Regions from separate parts of the Homo sapiens genome. Here region 1 is linked to region 2. A link means that fine-mapping ties the variant in region 2 to the expression of a gene that starts in the linked region. Tissue or cell type: whole blood. Region 2 holds a variant in brackets; the other region holds the start of a gene. All regions are shown on one strand. Distances are between the middles of the regions.

Region 1 (10,571 bases), 55 kb before region 2:
CTTAAACAGGACACAAAGAGCATTAAACATTACTGAAAAGATGGATCAACTGGGCTACATTAAAAATTTTACACTTCTATGTATCAAAAGATACAACTGAGAGAGTGAAAAGGCAAACACAAGAGTCTAAAAACAATCTGTCATGCACATATGTACTCAGAATATAGAGAAAACTCCTTCAAATCAGTAAAAAACAAAACAGACAACCCAATCAACAGATGGGCAAAAGATAACCGTTTCACAAAAGACATCCAGGTGGCCAGTGAACACAGGTAGAGATGCTTTACCTCTGCATGTTCCTGGCCATCAGGGAGCAGCAAATTCAGACCATACTGAGCCACCTACCAGCTAACAGCCACCAGAACAGCTAAAATGTAAAGACCCAACAATACCAAGTGCTGAAGAGCATAGGAGCAACTGACTTCTCATACATTGCTGGGGTAGTACAAACTGTCACAACCACCACTTTTGGCACTCTCTACTGAGGCTGAACAAATGCACACACCATCATTTGCATTCCACTTCTTTGTAGAAATCCAACAGAAGTGTACACATATCCTCCGGCCTGGGCAACATGGTAAAACCCCACCTCTACAAAAAATACAAAAATTAGCGGAGGGTGGTGATGCGTGCCTGTATTCCCAGCTACTTGGGAGGCTGAGGCAGGAGAATCGCTTCAACCTGGGAGGTGGAGGCTACAGTGAGCCGAGATCATGCCACTGCACTCCAGCCTGGGCAACAGAGTGAGACCCTATCTCAAAAAAAAAAAAGTTTATAGACATCTGCACCAAAAAACAAACAATATTAGGGGAGCACGTGTAAAAACTGGAAACAACCCCAAATGTCTGTGAGCAGTAGAAAGAATAAGTTCTGTCTGTTCGTGCACGGGATGACCAGAGAGCAGGTGAGAATGAGCAAGCTGCATCTCACAAACATGATGCTGACGACAGAATGAAGAAGCAAAACATACAGATTATTTTACTTCACTTAAACAAAGTCAAGAACAGGCAAAAGTAATCAATGGTGAAAGGTCAAGACCTTGGTTAGCTCTGGGGGACAACTACTGGGAATAGTTAGGAGGGGACTTCTAGGAAGCCTGATAATGTTCCATTTCTTGATCTGGGTGGTGGTATGCAAGTGTGTTAACTTTGTGAAAAGTCCACTGAGATGTATACTTACGATTTGTGAATTTTTCTGCTGTATGCTATAGTTATGTATATTTTTAAGTACACTCTAACTTGCCTCCACAATGTGCCAGGAGCACAAATGCACTTCCTGGACTCATTATCTGGTCACACTACCAGCCACCAAAGATGAACCAGATGCCAGGAAAGGGAAGGGTCCAAAACAAGTTTACTTAATAGTTTCCATTTTTGAAAGGCTGGAATCAGGTGCTCAGGTGGTAACGTGAACCGTTGGCATCATCATGTTATCCACTGAACTAGGCATTCCCAGGCTGCTACACTGAGCAGTGCCAGAAACAAATCACTGAGCAACCATGTCACCAGTGTGTGTGACAACCTCCACAGCCTGCGACTAACTGTACAAAACTCCTGTCACTTCCCTGACATGTCTTGTGTGCCCATTCTTTCCAAAACCTACCTTATTAAGTATATTAGTATTTGATATACACTTCAATACGTGTACCTTAAATTACAAATACAATAAAATCCTGGTAAAACATAAATTGGCTACTTCTTTTAAAATTGTAGTAATAAAATTCAACATAAATAAACTTGGTAATTTATAAGATTGAAATAAGAAAAATCTTAATGATTCTTTAATCCAACAAAAAAGGAACATAGAGCGCTAACGTCAAATTATTGTTGCTAAAAAGGAAACCCACGTTTGGCTTATCAATCTTTCAGGAGAACTGACTACAGCCAAGAAACACATTAAGGCTAGTACTTATTCATTTACTAATTTATCACTGCAGACCCATCATGCGAGTATAAATGTGTGCTTATGCGGGTCTACCTGAATGCACCCCAAAGGCACTTATGATGAGTAACGTGGCGCCTAGACAGCTCTGAAACACATAAATAACCCACTTCTCTCCCACTATGCCCCGTGCCACTCACCTTACACTCTTCTAGTTTTTACTTTCTCCCTTTACCTACCATTAAGTAAATCCTCATTCAACTCCATGAGCAAAGTCTTTCAAACACTGGTCCAAATGTAACATACTCAGAGAAACAATTTCAGTTGTTCTAAGCTTTAAAAATCTTTTTTTTTTTTGAGACAGGCTGGAGAGCAGTGGTGCAATCTTGGCTCACTGCAACCTCCACCTCCCGGGTTCAAGTGATTCTCATGCCTCAGCCTCTGAGTAGCTGGGACTACAGATGCGCGCTACCACGCTCTGCTAATTTTTGTATTTTTGGTAGAGACAGGGTTTTGCCATGTTGGCCAGGCTGGTCTCAAACTCCTGACCTCAGGTGATCCGCCTGCCTCAGCCTCCCAGAGTGCTGGGATTACAGGCATGAGCCACCACACCCGGCCTAAGCTTTAAAATTCTCATCTGCCAAGGAAAAAGTTCCTAAGGAATCAATCTCGAGTCTTCTATCCCCTAAAACAAATGTGACTTACAAAACCTAGATGTTCTGATAAAGGTGGGCTATCAAAATAATTTTTTTTTTCCGTGAAATCAATCCTATTTGTCTATTAAATTACATTAGGAAATTAGAAATACATGAGATAATCCATGGGAAGTACAAGTTTAGCCAGAAAAGGCTTAAGACAACAGAATGGAGGCACCAAATAGATTGGTTGCTTCAGAGCCCTTTTTCAAAAACTCTGGAGAACTTCCTGAACCTAGGCAGTTCCCAAAGATAGGAATGAAAATAATGAGGTATTTTCACATGACTTTAGAGTACAACGATTTGTTCTCCCTAAGAAGTTTAATCCCTAGGAACTTTGTATTTGACTTACAAACACCAGAAACTATCATTTCACAAATCGTTACGGAAAATACTCATCTGAAACATTAACAAAAGATGACACTAATAAAAAAACATTTAGTGGAGAAAAATCTATAGTTTCAGGTTAAAAGCACTCATACCTGTGGAAGTGCCGTGTTGAGCTGTCTCTGCAAGGAATCTCTTTCATGACCAACCTCGTGTAACTTCCCCTGGGTTAAGGCCAGCGTTTCTTGAGTCTCTCTCAGTGTATCAAGAAGGCGGTCCCTTTCTTCTAGCATGGAGACCATCAACTGTTCAAAATGTGAATCTGCATCTGGCTGTGAAGGGGAGCCGGAACCATGGCCTCCACCTCCTCCAGGGGGGCCTTCTGCTTCGCTGATGGTCGGCATCACCTCGCACATCATCTTGAAATGAAAGACCCAGGCTACAGTAATTAAGCTCAGAATACAGGTTCCCACAAATATGCAACTTTACAGGTATCTGTAGCTAAAAAGATGGGCAGTCTCATTATGCTCAGATCTGTTATGCTTTGTGTGTAAATAAGCTGGGAAAACATACACAGGGCAAATATTAAGTGCAAAAATACACAACATGAAGACATTAACACAGACAAAAATCCAGGGAAGGGGTCAAGATCCCAAAGGACTACCCTCACAAAAAAGGGCAAGCCCTGGGGTAGTCTGTTTGCAAAGCTGTACTTGTTTTTGCTGAAAACAAGTGTGCTTCTGTTACCTATTTTTTTTACTTCCCAGTGGGGTGGGGAGGGTGGGGGGGTAGGGGGGGAGAAAGTCAAAACACATGTCACCCAATCATTTTTCAGGAAAAGCACAGAAGGAGCATACAACCAGCAAAACTGACAAGTACAAAATCCATCAGGCATCTTGCAGGAATGTGTGCAGTCAGCTCCCGGGAAGAACTGACGGCTCCCTGAATTCTTGGGCTGGATTTGGTGAGCACTAAAAGGAACCGGATTCGTTAAACGCTGGTAGAAGTGTTTTCCAATGGCTGCAACGGTTGGTCAACCTAACTTACGTAAGTTTACAACCGAAAAAAAAAATCCACAATGGAAATATAGCAGGTCGATACAGCCGGGGGCGGCTAGGAAAGAGGGAAAAGTGAAAGGTGAGATTACGAGAGTCTATTAAGTGTCTGGGATATAAAGACAGCGCCAGGGAAAGGGGAAGTCGCTTCTGAGCCTTTCGGGCAGTACTGGGGGCGCGGTGGACCCCTGAGAGGGGGATGCCCCAGACGGCGCACCTGATGGGGATGGTGACCTCCAGCCTGCTCGAGCCGCACTCCTCCCCTCCTGTATCAGGTGCGGCGGAAGCCCCGAACCCCGGGGGGTGAGGACCGTTGACAACGGAGCCCGCTCGGGCCAGGGCTTTCAGCGGCCACAGGTCCCCGCCCCTCGCCCCAGCGCCCGGGTCACGGGGCGCGGGGCTCGGGGAGGGGCAGCGCGCAGTCCCCGGAGCCGTCCCTTGGGGCGCGGGTGTCCCGCCGGAGCTCTCCCAGCGCGACCCGGCGCCGCGGCCTCGCCCCCACCCGTCCCGGAGCGCACCCTTCCCCGCGGAGACATCTAATCGGCTGCGTGGCCGCCGCGGAGACCGGGACGCGCCGGTGACGCCTGGGCCCCGAGCCTGCCTCAGTGTCCCGCTCCCTTACCTTGCTCGCCGGCGGGAGCGGGCGAGGAGGCTCCGCGGCGGCTCGCGGGCGGCTGCTCGCTCCGGGAGAGCTTGGGAGCCGACGAAAGCAGCCCGCGGCCGGCGTCCGCCTGCCCGCCCCACGCCGCGGCCCCGGGGCCCGCCGCCCCAGTCACTAAGGCCGGCCCGCGGCCGGACACTGGCGGAGCGGAGGAGGAGCGGGCCCGGCTGCGCGGCGCCGGCGTCTACGTGCCCGACGTCGAGCGCGTCGGCGCGAGCGTCAGCACCGCCCCGGGGGCGGGGCCCGAGGAGCACCTTGGCCCGAGTACGCAAGCGCTGTCTCCTCAGGAGGGGGCGGGAGGCGGCCCCGGGGCACTGATTGGCTGAGCGAGACGGGAGCCACGCCCCCCAGGCCCCGCCCGGGTCGCGGGGGAGGGGGCGGTCTCCGGGATGAGCCACAGGTGGGCGCTCAGGTGCTCGCCGGGTCAGCGTCTTCCTCCGGGCGTCCCCAGTTTCCCCCCACGGCTGCAGGGACGCCGGAGGCCTTTGCTGAGTGTCTACCGCGCCTCGAGTTCTGAGCTGGACGCGTCCGGCACGTCAGGTCCCTCCCGAGCTGGAGGCTCTGGATTCGCACCTTGCAGAAGAGCGAACCGAGGCTTCAGTCACCACCGAGGACCCAGACCCCGCCCGCCGCGGCGCCCCTACGGTCTCCCTGGGCCTGATCTGGGTTCAGAAGGACGGAGTTCCCGCCAGGACCCACTTACGGAGCGCTGCCTGCCGCACCTGGGGACGTCCCGGCGCAGCGTCCAGAGTGCAGGCTTTGCCGCTGTGGCTTTCACTCTGCAGCGTGGGCCCGGGCGACTCGGGAAACCCGCCTGGGCTTCAGCGCCTCCGATGTAGGATGGGAAAATGATGCAGACCTACCTGCGAGGCTGCTTTAAGACATGAATCAGATGTGAAGAGCGACTAGTTGAGAGCCTGACGGGCAGCACTGCGCGAGTCTTGGTCATTTCATCTTTTCCGCAAGTTTTTTTTTTTTTCCAGACGTTGTTTCACTCTTGTCACCCAGGCTGGAGTGCAATGGCGCCATCTCGGCTCACTGCAACCTCTGCCTCCCGGGTTCAAGTGATTCTCCTGCCTCAACCTCCCGTGTAGCTGGGATTACAGGCGCACGCCACCAAGTCCAGATAATTTTGTATTTTTAGTAGAGACGGGATTTCTACATGTTGGTCGAGCTGGTCTCGAACTCCTGACCTCAGGTGGTCTGCCCGCCTCAGCCTCCCAAAGTGTTGGGATTACAGGCGTGAGCCACTGCGCCCGGCCTCAGCAAGAATTTTTAAACATCTACTATGGGCCAAGTCTTGTGCTAGATGTTGCAGATACGGAGATGAATAGAGACACCTCTAATTAATTAAAGCGGATGCCCTCCCCACTCCTCCCAGGATTTGACTCGGAGCACAAACTCTTCACAAACCAAAATGTCAGGACACCATCGCCAGTGTCCACTGGCCACTGCTGTTGGTGTGAGGCAGCCAGGAGCCCCTCAGAACTAGTAAGTCTGAGAAGAGGCTGCACGGGGCCTAGGAGAGGGAGAAATGAGCCCGTCCAAGGTGAATTCCTTGATTCTCCATTGTGAGTGCACCAAGAACAAGCACTCCCTCCGACTGACTCTCGCCTACCAGGATCTGGAACACCTTCCATTAATTTATTCGTTCATTCAATAAATATTTATTGACTGACTACACATAGATATGAATATGTACTTTTTGCCCCTAGTTTCTTGCTATTTTAAAAGTGTAAAAATGGCCAGGTGAGGCCGGGTGCGGTGGCTCAAGCCTGTAATCCCAGCACTTTGGGAGACCCAGGTGGGCAGATCACTTGAGGTCAGGAGTTCAAAACCAGCCTGGCCAACATGGTGAAACCCTATCCCTACTAAAAATACAAAAATTAGCCGGGTGTGGTGGCGGGCATCTGTAATCCCAGCTACTCAGGAGGCTGAGGTGGAAGAATAGCTTGAACCTGGGAGGTGGAGGTTGCAATGAGGAGATCATGCCACTGCGCTCCAGGCTGGGAGACAAAGCGAGGCTCTGTCTCAGAAAAAAAAAAAAAAAAAAAACATTGGCCAGGTGCAGTGGCTCACGTCTGTAATCCCAGCACGCTGGGGGGCCAACGTGGGAGGATTGCTTGAGCCTGGGCAATATATCGAGACCCATGTCTATACAAAAAATTAAAAATTAGTCCAGCAAGGTGGGCCACACCTGTAGTCCCAGGTACTTGGGGGATTGAGGTGGGAGGATCGCTTGAGCCTGAGAGGTCGAGGCTGCAGTGAGCTGTGATTGTGCCACTGCATTCCAGCCTGGGTGCCAAAGCGAGACTCTGTCTCAAAAATAATAAAATTGTAAAGTTGATCGCTTAGATGAGGTGTTCTGCAAGTACCCTGTACCTCTCCACACCCCAGCAATTCTGCACAACTCCCAAGTTCCCCTGAACCACTGTCTGAAACCAGCAAATTTCCAGCTCTCCTTAGGGGTACCTGCTTAATGCAGCCAGCTTATGTTTGCACCATGCTCATAAAGTGTCTGTTTTCTAAGAAATCGGCTCAAGGCCGGGCGCAGTGGCTCACGCCTGTAATCCCAGCACTCTGGGAGGCCGAGGTAGGCGGATCACGAGTTCAGGAGATCGAGACCATCCTGGCTAACACAGTGAAACCCTGTCTCTACTAAAAATACAAAAAATTAGCCGGGCGTGGTGGCAGGCGCCTGTAGTCCCAGCTACTCGGGAGGCTGAGGCAGGAGAATGGCGTGAACCCGGGAGACGGAGCTTGCAGCGAGCCGAGATCGCGCCACTGCACTCCAGCCTGGGCAACAAAGCGAGACTCCATCTCAAAAAAAAAAAAAAAAAGAAAAATCGGCTCAAGATCAAAATTTAGTTCGGCAGGGTAGAATGTTCATTCATTTCATGAATATTTGTGCAGCATGTATGAGCCAAGCATGGCTTAGGTCTTGGGAACGCAGAGCTAAGACATCACTTCTAGTATGAGTTCACAGTCTGGAGAAAGAGAAGAAAAACAGACTATTGCAATGTCTGTCCCGTAAACAGTGTGTGACTTGGTGCTGTGGAATCACAGGGAAGGGAGGAACCCGCTCTCCAGCTGGCATCATGGGGGCTTCATAGAGGAGGCAATATCTGAGCTGGGTCTTGAATGATGTGGGATTTTTCCAGCGGAGAAGGGAGACACCCAGTTGGTATAGCTCCAGGAAAATGAGAATTCTGAATTTCATTTTATTTCTTTCTTTTCTTTCTTTTTCCTTCCTTCCTTGCTTCCTTCCTTCCTTCCTTCCTTCCTTCCTCCCTTCCTTCCTTCCTTCCTTCCTTCCTTCCTCTCTCTCTCTCCCTCCCTCCCCTCCCCTTACCCTTCCTTTGTTCTTTTTCTCTCTCTTTTTTTTTTTTTTTTTGAGACAGGGTCTCATGTAGTCACCTAGGCTGGGATATAGTGGTTCGAACACAGTTTACTGCAGCCTCTACCTCCCAGGCCCATCAGTCATCTCACCTCAGCTCCCCAACAAGTAGCTGGGACTACCAGCGCAGACCACCATGCCTGGCTAACTTTTTTGTATTTTTGGTAGAAAAGAGGTTTCACCATGTTGCCCAGGATGGTCTCAAACTCCTGAGCCCAAGCAATCCTCCCACCTCACCCTCCCAAAGTGCTGGAATTACAGGCATGAGCCACCACTCATGGCCCTCATTCATTTTAATTCATTTATTATTTCATTCCCCCAGATCGCAAAATCAGTAAGGGGGAAATCGTAAACAACCTAAATGGCCAAGAAAACAAGATTGGTTAAATTATTGCACTTCCAAATGACAGAAAACTTGGTGACATTCACAGTCATTTTTTTTGAGACTGAATCTTGCCCCGTCGCCCAGGCTGGAGTGCAGTGGGGTGATCTCGGCTCACTGCAGCCTCCGCCTCCTGGGGTTCCAGAGATTCTCCTGCCTCAGCTTCCTGGGTAGCTGGGATTACAGGCACACCTGGCTAATTTTTGTATTTTTAGTAGAGACTGGGTTTCACCATGTTGGACAGGCTGGTTTCGAACTCCTGACCTCAGGTGATCCATCCACCTCAGCCTCCCAAAGTGCTAGGATTACAGGTGTGAGCCACCGCACCTGGCCCACAGTCATATTTTAGATAACTACATATATCATGATTGTGGTGGTAGTTACATTACTATATACGTTTGTCAAATAACTGTACATTAATATGTAGAGTATGCCTTAATTTTTATACATAAACAAAAACTTTTTTAAAAAAGCAAATTCAAACAAGTATACAGAGTGTGAACCCCAATTTGAAAAAGAAAACAGTCTGTGTTTAGATTAAGAATGTATTATGTAAAATTTACCTTGTAGATGAATAACTCTAGAATGTTAAGGTGATACATTTTTAATAAAATGAGTTTTATATGACATGAACTATTCTTGAAATGAGAAATTAAATTTTAAGTTTCAAATTATGAAAGAAAAACATATGTCTACATAAGAAAATATTGTTACTGTAGTCAATTAGTTCTTTATCTTTCCCCACTTCCCGCATATATATATGTATATATTCTTGGAAGGAGATCCATCAGAATGTTCGCGGTGGTTATCTTTAAGTGGGATTGTGGTTGGAAGCTGCATTTCTTTCATTTTGCTAGTCTTTATTTTCTAGATACTTTATCATGAATGTGCGTCATTATTATAATCAATAGGAAAACCTCCAATAAATGTTCATTAAAATTCAATCTGGACAAGTGAGAACCATGGAGAACTGCTTTCAGGAAGCTAACATGACTTTCAGATGGATTTACTCATACCACCCAGCTAAACTACTTCCCAGAAGTATTTATCTGGAAAACATTTCTCAGAGCTTGGGTGACATGCTGTCACCCAAGGCTCTGTCAGGAAAACAGTGAAGATGGAAAATGTTTTCACTCCAGTTCTTCTGTAAAAGACTTGATAAAGAAATTATGATAGAAGGAGTGAGGAGGGAGCAGAGAATTTATCACTACTCCTGGGGTTTCATGTTTGCAAATGTGGCTGCGGTGGAGGTCAGCCAGCCTCTGCTCTCTAGAAGGTGCCTGGATGATGCAGTTAGTTGTCAACCATGAGCATCACTCAGGACACCTCTCCACTCCAGAGATGTAAGCGGCTTAAGAAGGAGGTTCCTGCGGGGATCGTTGTGGTCTGACCTCAATCATAGAGATCAGGATGTGCCCAAATCTACCCAGAACATGTAAAGCCACCTAATGAATGAGTGCTGTGACAACACAGTTCAGGGGGAGGTCTGAGCTGGAGGAGCCCTAGGGCAGTAGATGGTGGAGGATGTGGTCGTTCCTTTAAGAGAAGGGAGCTGAAACCCAGAGATGCAAAACAGATTTCCCTGTAGACACTCAGAGAGTTTGGGGCAGAGCTGGAGGTGGAGCCTTGAGTGAACCCAGGGCTCTCAATTCCCCGTCCTGTCCCCACGTCGTTGTGATCAAGGAGTGGCCTCTTTAAGGAACAACTGAAGAGAAAACATTTTACCAGTTGGTCTGCAGTGCAGCCGAAATAATTCAATTCCCAGGGCCAAGAGCTACCATTTTACTTATTCATCTCATTTCATTCTTTTTTTTTTCCGAGATGAAGTCTCACTCTGTCGCCCAGGATGGAATGCAGTGGCACGATCTCAGCTCACTGCAACCTCTGCCTCCCAGGTTCAAATGATTCTCCTGCCTCAGCCTCCTGAGTAGCTGGGATTACAGGCATGCGCCACCACGCCCAGCTAATTTTTGTATCTTTAGTAGAGACAAGGTTTCACCATATTGGTCAGGCTGCTCTCAAACTCCTGACCTCAGATGATCCACCCACCTCGGCCTCCCAAAGTGCTGGGATTACAGGTGTGAGCCACCGCCCCTGGCCACCATTTCATTCTTAAAATAGTTCTCCAGGGCTGGGAGGCGGAGGTTGCAATGAGCCAAGATGGTGCCACTGC
Region 2 (10,571 bases):
GCTGCCTTTGATATTTTTTTTCTTTCACGTTGACCTTGGTGAATCTGTTGTCTTGTATAATACTTTTTTTTTTTTTGAGAGTCTTGTTTTGTCACCCAGGCTGGAGTGCAGTGTCTCAATTTTGGCTCACTGCAACCTCTGCCTCCTGGGTTCAAGTGATTCTCTTGCCTCAGCCTCCCAGGTTGAATTACAGGCATCTGCCACCATGCCTGGCTAATTTTTGTGTTTTTAGTAGAGACAGGGTTTCACCACGTTGGCCAGGCTGGTCTGGAACTCCTGACCTCAAGTGATCTGCCCACCTCGGCCTCCCAAAGTGCTGGGATTACAGGTGTGAGCCACTGTGCCTGGCCCGTATAATGCTTTTTTTTTTTTTTTTAAAGTATTAGCTCATGTGACTTGGAGGCCAGAAGCAGGGCGGGTTGCTTCAGCAGCTCAGTGGTATTGTCCCTGGCTCTGTGTCTGTTACAAAATGTCATCGTGTTACAAAATCATCCTGTTACAAAATCACATCATGATGGTGTGATCACACCTGTAACAAGAGAGGCTGAACACATCTTTACTGGTGTACTTACTCTGTAGTTTACAAACAAGTCACAGAATCCTCACAACATCCCTTCTAGGTAGCTACTGTAATCATCCATTTTGTGGATGGGTTTACTTGTCTAAGTTTACACAGATGCTAAGTGTCAGGCCTCTAAGCCCTAGCTAAGCCATCATATCCCCTGTGACCTGCATGTACACATCCAGATGGCCGGTTCCTGCCTTAACTGATGACATTCTCCCACAAAAGAAGTGAAAATGGCCTGTTCCTGCCTTAACTGATGACATTGTCTTGTGAAATTCCTTCTCCTGGCTCAAAATCTCCCCTACTGAGCACCTTGTGACCCCTACTCTGCCTGCCAGAGAACAACCCCCCTTGGACTGTAATTTTCCTTTATCTACCCAAATCCTATAAAACGGCCCCACCCTTATCTCCCTTCACTGACTCTCTTTTCGGACTCAGCCTACCTGCACCCTGGTGAAATAAACAGCTTTATTGTTCACACAAAGCCTGTTTGGTGGTCTCTTCACACGGACGTGAGTGAAATTTGGTGCCGTGACTCGGATCGGGGGACCTCCCTTGGGAGATCAATCCCCTGTCCTCCTGCTCTTTGCTCTGTGAGAAAGATCCACCTATGACCTCAGGTCCTCAGACCAACCAGCCCAAGAAACATCTCACCAATTTCAAATCCGGTAAGCAGCCTCTTTTTACTCTCTTCTCCAACCTCCCTCACTATCCCTCAACCTGTTTCTCCTTTCAATCTTGGCGCCACACTTCAATCTCTCCCTTCTTTTAATTTCAATTCCTTTCATTTTCTGGTAGAGACAAAGGAGACACGTTTTATCCGTGGACCCAAAACTCCAGCACTGGTCACGGACTAGGAAGGCAGCCTTCCCTTGGTGTTTAATCATTGCAAGGACACCTCTCTGATTATTCACCCATGTTTCAGAGGTGTCAGACCACGCAAGGACGCCTGCCTTGGTCCTTCACCCATAGCGGCAAGTCCCGCTTTTCTGGGGGAGGGGCAAGTACCCCAACCCCTTCTCTCTGTGTCTCTACCCCTTCTCCACCTTTCTGGAGGGCAAGAAATCCCCAACCCCTTCTTCTTCACTCTTAGCAGCAAGTCCCACTTTTCTAGGGGAGGGGCAAGTACCCCAACCCCTTCTCTTCATGTCTCTACCCCTTCTCCACCTTTCTGTAAGGCAAGAAACCCCCAGCCCCTTCTCCTTCACCCTTAGCAGCAAGTCCCATTTTTCTGGGGGAGGGGCATGTACCCCAACCTTGTATCTCTGCGCCCCGATCCCTTATTTCCACGCTCCGACCTCTTATATCTCTGTGCCCCAATCCCTTATTTCTGTGCCCCAACCTCTTATATCTCTGCACCCTGCTCCCTTATTTCCGTGCCCCAACCTCGTATCTCTGTGCCCCGACCCCTTTCCTGCTTTTCTGGAAGGTAAGAACCCCCGAACCGCTTCCCTCCATGTCTCTACTCTCCCTTTTCTTTAAACTTGCCTCCTTCACTATAGGCAACCTTCCACCCTCCATTCCTCCTTCTTCTCCCTTAGCCTGTGTTCTTAAGAACATAAAACCTCTTCAACTCTTGCCTGACCTAAAACCTAAATGCCTTACTTTCTTCTACAATGCCGCTTGACCCCAATACAAACTTGACAATGGCTCTAAATGGTCAGAAAACGGCACTTTCGATTTCTCCATCCTACAAGACCTAAATAATTTTTGTCGAAAAATAGGCAAATGGTCTGAGGTGCCTGACGTCCAGGCATTCTTTTACACATCTGTCCCTCCCTAGTCTCTCTGCCCAGTGCAACTAGTCCCAAATCTTCCTTCTTTCCCTCCTGCCTGTCTCCTCAGTCCCAACCCCAAGTGTCGCTGAGTTTTTCTAATCTTCCTTTTCTACAGACCCATCTGACCTCTCCCCTCCTCACTAGGCCGAGCTAGGTCCCAATTCTTCCTCAGCCTCTGCTCCTCCACCGTATAATCCTTTTATCACCTCCCCTCCTCACACCCAGTCCGGCTTACAGTTTCATTCCATGACTAGCCCTCCCCCACCTGCCTAGCTATTTCCTCTTAAAAAGGTGGCTGAAGCCAAACGCATAGTCAAGGTTAATACTCATTTTTCTTTATCAGACCTCTCCCAAATCAGTGAGCGTTTAGGCTCTTTCATCAAATATGAAAAACCCAGCCCAGTTCATGGCTCGTTTGGCGGCAACCCTGAGACGCTTTACAGCCCTAGACCCTAAAAAGTCAAAAAGCCGTCTTATTCTCAATATACATTTTATTACCCAGTCTGCTCCCGACATTAAATAAAACTCCAAAAGTTAAATTCTGGCCCTCAAACCCCACAGCAGGACTTAATTAACTTCACCTTCAAGGTGTACAATAATAGAGTGGAGGCAGCCAAGTAGCAACATATTTCTGAGTTGCAACTCTTTGCCTCCACTGTGAGACAAACCCCAGCCACATCTCCAGCACACAAGAACTCCAAACGCCTGAACCGCAGCTGCCAGGGGTTCCTCCAGAACCTCCTCCCCCAGGAGCTTGCTACAAGTGCCCACAGCCCAGGATTCCTCCTGAGCCATGTCCCATCTGTACAGGACCCCACTGAAAATTGGACTGTTCAACTCACCTGGCAGCCACTTCCAGAGCCCCTGGAACTCTGGCCCAAGGCCGTCTGACTCCTTCCCAGATCTTCTTGGCTTAGCAGCTGAAGACTGGCACTGCCGATCGCCTTGGAAGCCTACAGGACCATCACAGACACTCTAAGTAACTCTCACAGTGGAAAGTAAGTCCATCCCCTTCTTAGTCAATACGGAGGCTACCCACTCCACATTACCTTCTTTTCAAGGGCCTGTTTCCCTTGCCTCCATAACTGTTGTAAATATTGACAGCCAGGTTCTAAACCTCTTAAAACTCCCCAACTCTGGTGCCAACTTAGACAATACTCTTTTAAGCACTCCTTTTTAGTTATCCCCACCTGCCCAGTTCCCTTATTAGGCGGAGACACTTTAACTAAATTATCTGCTTCCCTGACTATTCCTAGGCTACATCCACACCTCATTGCCACCTTTTCCCCCAGTTCAAAGCCTCCTTCACATCCTCCCCTTGTATCTCCCCACCGTAACCCACAAGTATAAGACACCTCTACTCCCTCCTTGGCGACCGATCATGCACCCCTTACCATCCCATTAAAACCTAATCACTCTTACCCCGCTCAATGCCAATATCCTATCCCACAGCACGCTTTGAAAGGATTAAAGCCTATTATCACTTGCCTGTTAGAGCATGGCCTTTTAAAGCCTATAAACTCTTCTTACCATTCCCCCATTTTACCTGTCCTAAAACCAGACAAGCCTTACAGGTTAGTTCAGAATCTGCGCCTTATCAACCAAATTGTTTTGCCTATCCACCCCGTGGTGCCAAACCCATATACTCTCCTATCCTCAATACCTCCCTCTACAACCCATTATTCTGTTCTGGATCTCAAACATGCTTTCTTTACTATTCCTTTGCACCCTTCATCCCAGCCTCCCTTTGCTTTCACTTAGACTGACCCTGACACCCATTAGGCTCAGCAAATTACCTGGGCTGTACTGCTGCAAGGCTTCACAGACAGCCCCCATTACTTCAGTCAAGCCCAAATTTCTTCCTCATCTGTTATCTGTCTTGGCGTAATTCTTATAAAAACACACGCGCTCTCCCTGCCGATCGTGTCTGACTGATCTCTCAAACCCCAACACCTTCTACAACCTAGGCATGGTTAGATACTTTCAACTTTAGATACCTGGTTTTGCCATCCTAACAAAATCATTATATAAACTCACAAAAAGAAACCTAGCTGACCCCACAGATCCTAAATCCTTTCCCCACTCCTTTTTCTGTTCCTTGAAGACAGCTTTAGAGACTGCCCCCACCTGAGCTCTCCCTGACTCATCCCAACCCTTTGCATTACACACAGCCAAAGTGCAGGGCTGTGCAGTTGGAATTCTTACACAAGGACCAGGATCGCGTCCTGTAGCCTTTTTGCCCAAACAACTTGACCTTACTGTTTTAGGCTGGCCATCATGTCTCTGTGCAGTGGCTACTGACCCTAATACTTTCAGAGGCCCTTAAAATCACAAACTATGCTCAACTCACTCTCTACAGCTCTCATAATTTCCAAAATCTATTTTCTTCCTCACACCTGATGCATATACTTTCTGCTCCCCGGCTCCTTCATCTCTCTGATCCAGCTGATGTTCACCTCATTTCCCCACATTTCCTTCTTCCCTGTTTCTCACCCTGATCACACTTAGTTTATTGATGGCAGTTCCACCAGGCCTACTCGCCACACACCAGCAAAGACAGGCTATGCTATAGTACAAGCCACTAGCCTGCCTTTTAGAACCTCTCATTTCCTTTCCATCGTAGAAATCTATCCTCAAGGAAATAACTTCTCAGCGTTCCATCTGCTAGTCTACTACTCCTCAAGGATTATTCAGGCCCCCTCCCTTCCCTACACATCAAGCTCAAGGATTTGCCCCCACCCAGGACTGACAAATTAGCTTTACTCAACATGCCCCGAGTCAAGAAACTAAAATACCTCTTAGTCTAAGTAGACACTTTCACTGAATAAGTAAAGGCCTTTCCTACAAGGTCTGAGAAAGCCACTGCGGTCATTTCTTCCCTTCTGTCAGACATAATTCCTCAGTTTGGACTTCCCACCTCTATACAGTCCGATAGCAGACCCACCTTTATTAGCCAAATCAGCCAAGCATTTTTTCAGGCTCTTAGTATTCAGTGAAACCTTTATATCCCTTACAGTCCTCAGTCTTCAGAAAAAGTAGAACAGACTAATAGTCTTAAAAACACACCTCACCAAGCTCAGCCACCAACTTAAAAAGGACTGGACAATACTTTTACCACTTTCCCTTCTCAGAAGTCAGACCTGTCCTCAGAATACTACAAGGTGCAGCCCATTTGAGCTCCTGTAGAGACACTCCTTTTTATTAGGCCCCAGTCTTATTCCAGACACCAGACCAACTTAGACCGTGCCCCCAAAAAACTTGTCATCCCTACTATCTTCTGTCTAGTCATACTCCTATTCACCGTTCTCAACTACTCATACATGCCCTGCTCTTGTTTACACTGC[C/T]GGTTTACACTGTTTCTCCAAGCCATCACAGCTGATATCTCCTGGTGCTATCCCCAAACTGCCACTCTTAACTCTTGAAGTAAATAAAGAATCTTTGCTGACCGGACTATGCTGAATCTCCTTAGGCACTCTCTAATCAGATGTCCTAGGTCCTCCCAATTCTTAGACCTTTTATACCCGTTTTTCTCCTTCTCTTATTCCATTTAGTTTTTCAATTCATACAAAACCATATCCAGGCCGTCACCAATAATTCTACACGACAAATGTTTCTTCTAACAACCCCACAATATCACCCCTTACCACAAAATCTTCCTTCAGCTTAATTTCTCCCATTCTAGGTTCCCACGCTGCCCCTAATCCCACTTGAAGCAGCCCTAAGAAACATCACCCATTATCTCTCCATGCCATCCCCAAAAAATTTTCACCATCCCAACACTTTACCACTCTTTCGTTTTATTTTTCTTATTAATATAAGAAGACAGAGGCCGGGCACGGTGGCTCACGCCTGTAATCCCAGCACTCTGGGAGGCCGAGGCGGGCGGATCACGAGGTCCGGAGATCGAGACCATCCTGGCTAACACGGTGAAACCCCGTTTCTACTGAAAATACAAAAAATTAGCTGGGCGCCGTGGCGGGCGCCTATAGTCCCAGCTACTTGGGAGGCTGAGGCAGGAGAATGGCGTGAACCCGGGAGGCGGAGCTTGCAGTGAGCCAAGATAGCGCCACTGCACTCCAGCCTGGGCGAAAGAGCGAGACTCCGTCTCAAAAAAAAAAAAAAAAAAAAGACAGGAATGTCAGGCCTCTAAGCCCCAGCTAAGCCATCATATCCCCTGTGACCTGCACGTACACATCCAGATGGCCGGTTCCTGCCTTAACTGATGACATTCCACCACAAAAGAAGTGAAAATGGCCTGTTCCTGCCTTAACTGATGACATTGTCTTGTGAAATTCCTTCTCCTGGCTCATCCTGGCTCAAAAGCTCCCCCACTGAGTACCTTGTGACCCCCACTCCTGCCCGCCAGAGAACAACCCCCCTTTGACTGTAATTTTCCTTTACCTACCCAAATCTTATAAAAAGGCCCCACTCCTATCTCCCTTCGCTGACTCTCTTTTCGGACTCAGCTCGCCTGCACCCAGGTGAAATAAACAGCTTTATTGCTCACACAAAGCCTGTTTAGTGGTCTCTTTACATGGACGCAAGTGAAACTAAGTAGAAGAGCTGAGACTCAAAACCAGGTGGCGGCTTGAGGCCAGCCTCCTGGCCACGCAATGCCTCTTAGTAGTAGAGTTCAGTCTATTAGATCTACCTTATTAAATCTGGTATTTCTTGCCGCCACAGGGTTTGTTTTATTATTTATTTATTTATTTACCATAACAACACTTTTATTTATTTATTTATTTATTTATTTATTTATTTTTGAGACAGAGTCTTGCTGTGTCACCCAGGCTGGGGTGCAGTGGCACAATCTTGGCTCACTGCAACCTCCGCCTCCCAGGTTCAAGTGATTCTCCTTCCTCAGCCTCCTGAGTAGCTGGGATTACAGGTGTCCACCAGTATGCCCAGCTAGTTTTTGTATTTTTAGTAGAGACAGGGTTTCACCATGTTGGCTGGGCTAGTCTCGAACTCCTGACCTCAAGTGGTTGGCCTGCCTCGGCCTCCCAAAGTGTTGAGATTACAGGTGTGAGCCACTGTGCCTGGCCTTTTTTTTTTTTGAGACCGAGTCTCGTTCTATTGCCCTGGCTGGAGTGCAGTGGTATAATCTTGCCTCACTGCAACCTCTGCCTCCCAAGTTCAAGTGATTCTCCTGCCTCAGCCTCCCAAGTAGCTGGGATTACAGGTACCCGCCACCACACTTGGCTCATTTTTTGTATTTTTAGTAGAGATAGGGTTTCACCATGTTGGTCAGGCTGGTCTTGAATTCCTGACCTCAGGTGAAATGCCGACCTTGGCATCTCAAAGTACTGGGATTACAGGTGTAAGCCACTGTGCCTGGCCCCATACCTACACTTTAATTTTAAGGCTGCTTGTTTTAAAACAGGCAGTTCCTTAAGAATAGTAACAATGATGACATTTAGTGACGTTTATCCTGGGCTGTCACCCCCAGACCTCGCCACACCACATCTCATTGAACCTTACAACATTGCTGGGAGAGGGAGCATTGGTGAGGGAGAAGAGCTGGCCACTCCCGGTCTGAGCTGGTAGCCCTTTGCTAAGAATCTACCGAGTAAATGAATGAATGGTGAATGAACCAGAATGAAACATACAGCTCAGAGTGCCAGGAGCCCAGAGGTGTATGTGTACGTGGGCGTCAACCCTTCCTGGCGAGTAGGACCCCTGGGATGGCCTGCAGTGACTCAGGTGGTGGGGACTCCTCCCTGGGGTTCCTGGCTGGAGCTCACTGGGCCTGGTCAGAGTGAAGGGCACCGGGGCGGGGGTATGTGGACCAGGGGCGGGGAGCAGAGGCTCAGGGAACAGGGGCATATGATGCATGGGTGGCAGACCAAGGGGCATACCTGGCTCCCCTGAGAAGATGCCCTCTTGCCCTGCCCGTGCCTACTGCGGGGCAGGTGCTTTCACAGTCCGACTGACTGGGCTGGGAAGCCCAACCAAAAGTGAAAGCTGAAGGGGAATCCAGGAATCTGAAACCCTGGGGCGGAGGCATCTTTTGCTTTCCTGCTTGCAAGGAACTCAGGCCCCTGAGAGACGCTAGTGGGCCTTTGATCGCTGCTGTTTACTCATTCACTCAGCAAACACAAAATAAGCCTTCACTCAGAAGCCGCTGGAAAGTGCTGGAAGCAGCCCTCAGGGAGTCGCGCTAGAGGAAGCAGGACCCGGGCAGGAGTGGGGGCTGCAGGGATCCCACTGTGAGTGGGTGCATGGGCAAGCCTGCATCAGAAGGATGTCTTCTGAGCTGGGGGGCTTGGGGTGGATAGTGAGGAAGGCTGCAGGGAGAGGAAACAGCAGGGGCAAGGGCTGCGGGGGAGGGTGGGAGGGGGTGAGGTGACAGTCTTGCTGTGGAGGGAACATGGCACTGGGCTGGGCTCTGCACAGTTGTGTACCCCGTCCCATGCATGATGATGCATGGATTAAGATTTCATCCTGGGCAGGCGCGGTGGCTCACTCCTGTAATCCCAGCACTTTGGGAGGCCGAGGTGGGTGGATCATGAGGTCAGGAGATCGAGACCATCCTGGCTAACATGGTGAAAACCCGTCTCTACTAAAAATACAAAAAATTAGCCGGGTGTGGTGGCGGATGCCTGTAGTCCCAGCTACTCGGGAGGCTGAGGCAGGAGAATGCTGTGAACCCGGGAGGCGGAGCTTGTAGTGAGCTGAGATCACGCCACTGCACTCCAGCCTGGGCGACTGAGCGAGACTCCACCTCAAAAAAAAAAAAGATTTCATCCTGAGGGACATGGGGACATTGTAGCTGGGGTTCTCCAGCCAGAAACTGATTTGGAAGTAGTAAAACATTGCCCAGACTCCCATGATGACCAGGTTTTCATTTCAATAATGAAACATCAATAGGCACAAATATATAGCCAGATGTGGAATAGAAGCCCATGTGTCTAGCCCTTGGAAACTATAAATCGCCAATAAAATTGCAAATTGGGGAGAGAGAAGCCTACAAAACTCGTAGAATTCAGATTAATAACATATTTAACGTCAGGTATGATTACTATTTTTTCCTTTCTTTTCTTTCCTCTGTTTTTTGAGACAGGGTCTTGCTCTGCTGCCCAGGCTGGAGTGCAGTGGCGCAACGATGGCTCACTATAGCCCTGAACTCCTGGGCTCTAGTGATCCTCCTGCCTCCCAAGTAGCTGGAACTACAGGAATATACCACTGTGGCCAGCTAATTTATTTTATTTTTTTTAAATTTTATTTTGAGAAAGAGTTTTGTTCTGTTGCCCAGGCTGGAGTGCAGTGGCGTGTTCTCAGCTCACTGCAACCTCCCCATCCCAGGTTCAAGCAATTCTTCTGCCCCAACCTCCTGATTAGCTGGGTCTACAGGCATGTACCAACACACCTAGCTAATTTTGTATTTTTAGTAGAGATGGGATTTCACCATGTTGGCCAGGCTGTTCTTGAACTAGTGACCTCATGTGATCTGCACGCCTTGGCCTCCCAAAATGCTCAGATTACAGGCATGAGCCACCACACCGGCCTAATTTATTTATTATTATTATTATATTTTAGAGATGGAGTCTTGCTTTGCAGCCCAGGCTTTTGAACTCTTGGCTTCAAGAGATCTCCCACCTCAGCCTCCCAAAGTGCTGAGATTACAGGCGTGAACGACTGTGCCGGGCTCAGCATTTTTAATTCATTCCAAACAGAAGTGCATTCTGTTTAATCATTAAACAGTATGTATGATGCTGTTTTGCTGAAACAAAATTGTAGCTTCATGTCTACAGACTGTCATCAAGGAGGCGTGGGAGTTTGGAAGGCCTTGTACTTGCCATGTGCCTGGGGGTGACTCAAATGGTCCACGATATTCTTTTTCTATTTGAGCCACACCTCAAAAACTTAAATCATATGTCATTTGGCTTTCCATGAGGACCCCATTCATGCATTGAATTGGCCTCTGTTCCTTGGTGACCATTACTGGGGTTGGCATCCATGATTCTTGCCACGGGGTCTCAACTTAGTAAATGATTCAAGAAACTAAGAGCTTCTTTGATGGAAGTATCTTTCAATTGCAAATTTCCCTGTAAAAGAGAAGTCTTGCCTTTATCTCAGCAGACACTGGGGGACGGGTCACTCTGGCATGAGCACATGCTACCCCACGTCATGTTTGCCTGTCTGATTCCAAATGCAATTCACACAGGATTTGTGTGGCTAGAAAGCAGTCAGCAAGATGACTCAGATTAATTATCACGGGAATAAAA

What was found. PIP is the estimated chance that this variant, and not a neighbour inherited with it, causes the effect.
Region 1: it holds the start of PPFIA1, and the variant in region 2 is fine-mapped to the expression of PPFIA1 in whole blood (TOPMed, PIP above 0.99).

Annotation. Positions count from the first base shown.
Region 1 is chr11:70,264,924-70,275,494 of GRCh38, reverse strand. It overlaps PPFIA1 (PPFI scaffold protein A1), which reads right to left and starts at 4,805. Exons shown (of 28, transcript NM_003626.5): 1 at 4,581-4,805; 2 at 3,059-3,322. The coding sequence starts at 3,322. RefSeq lists silencers at 4,201-4,630, 4,671-5,220.
Region 2 is chr11:70,210,270-70,220,840 of GRCh38, reverse strand. LOC124902705 (a long non-coding RNA gene) reads left to right here and starts at 8,369. Exons shown (of 3, transcript XR_007062761.1): 1 at 8,369-8,552. RefSeq lists enhancers at 372-1,072, 5,615-6,422, 6,423-7,232, 7,233-8,042. The variant C/T (reference allele first, on the strand shown) is at 5,688.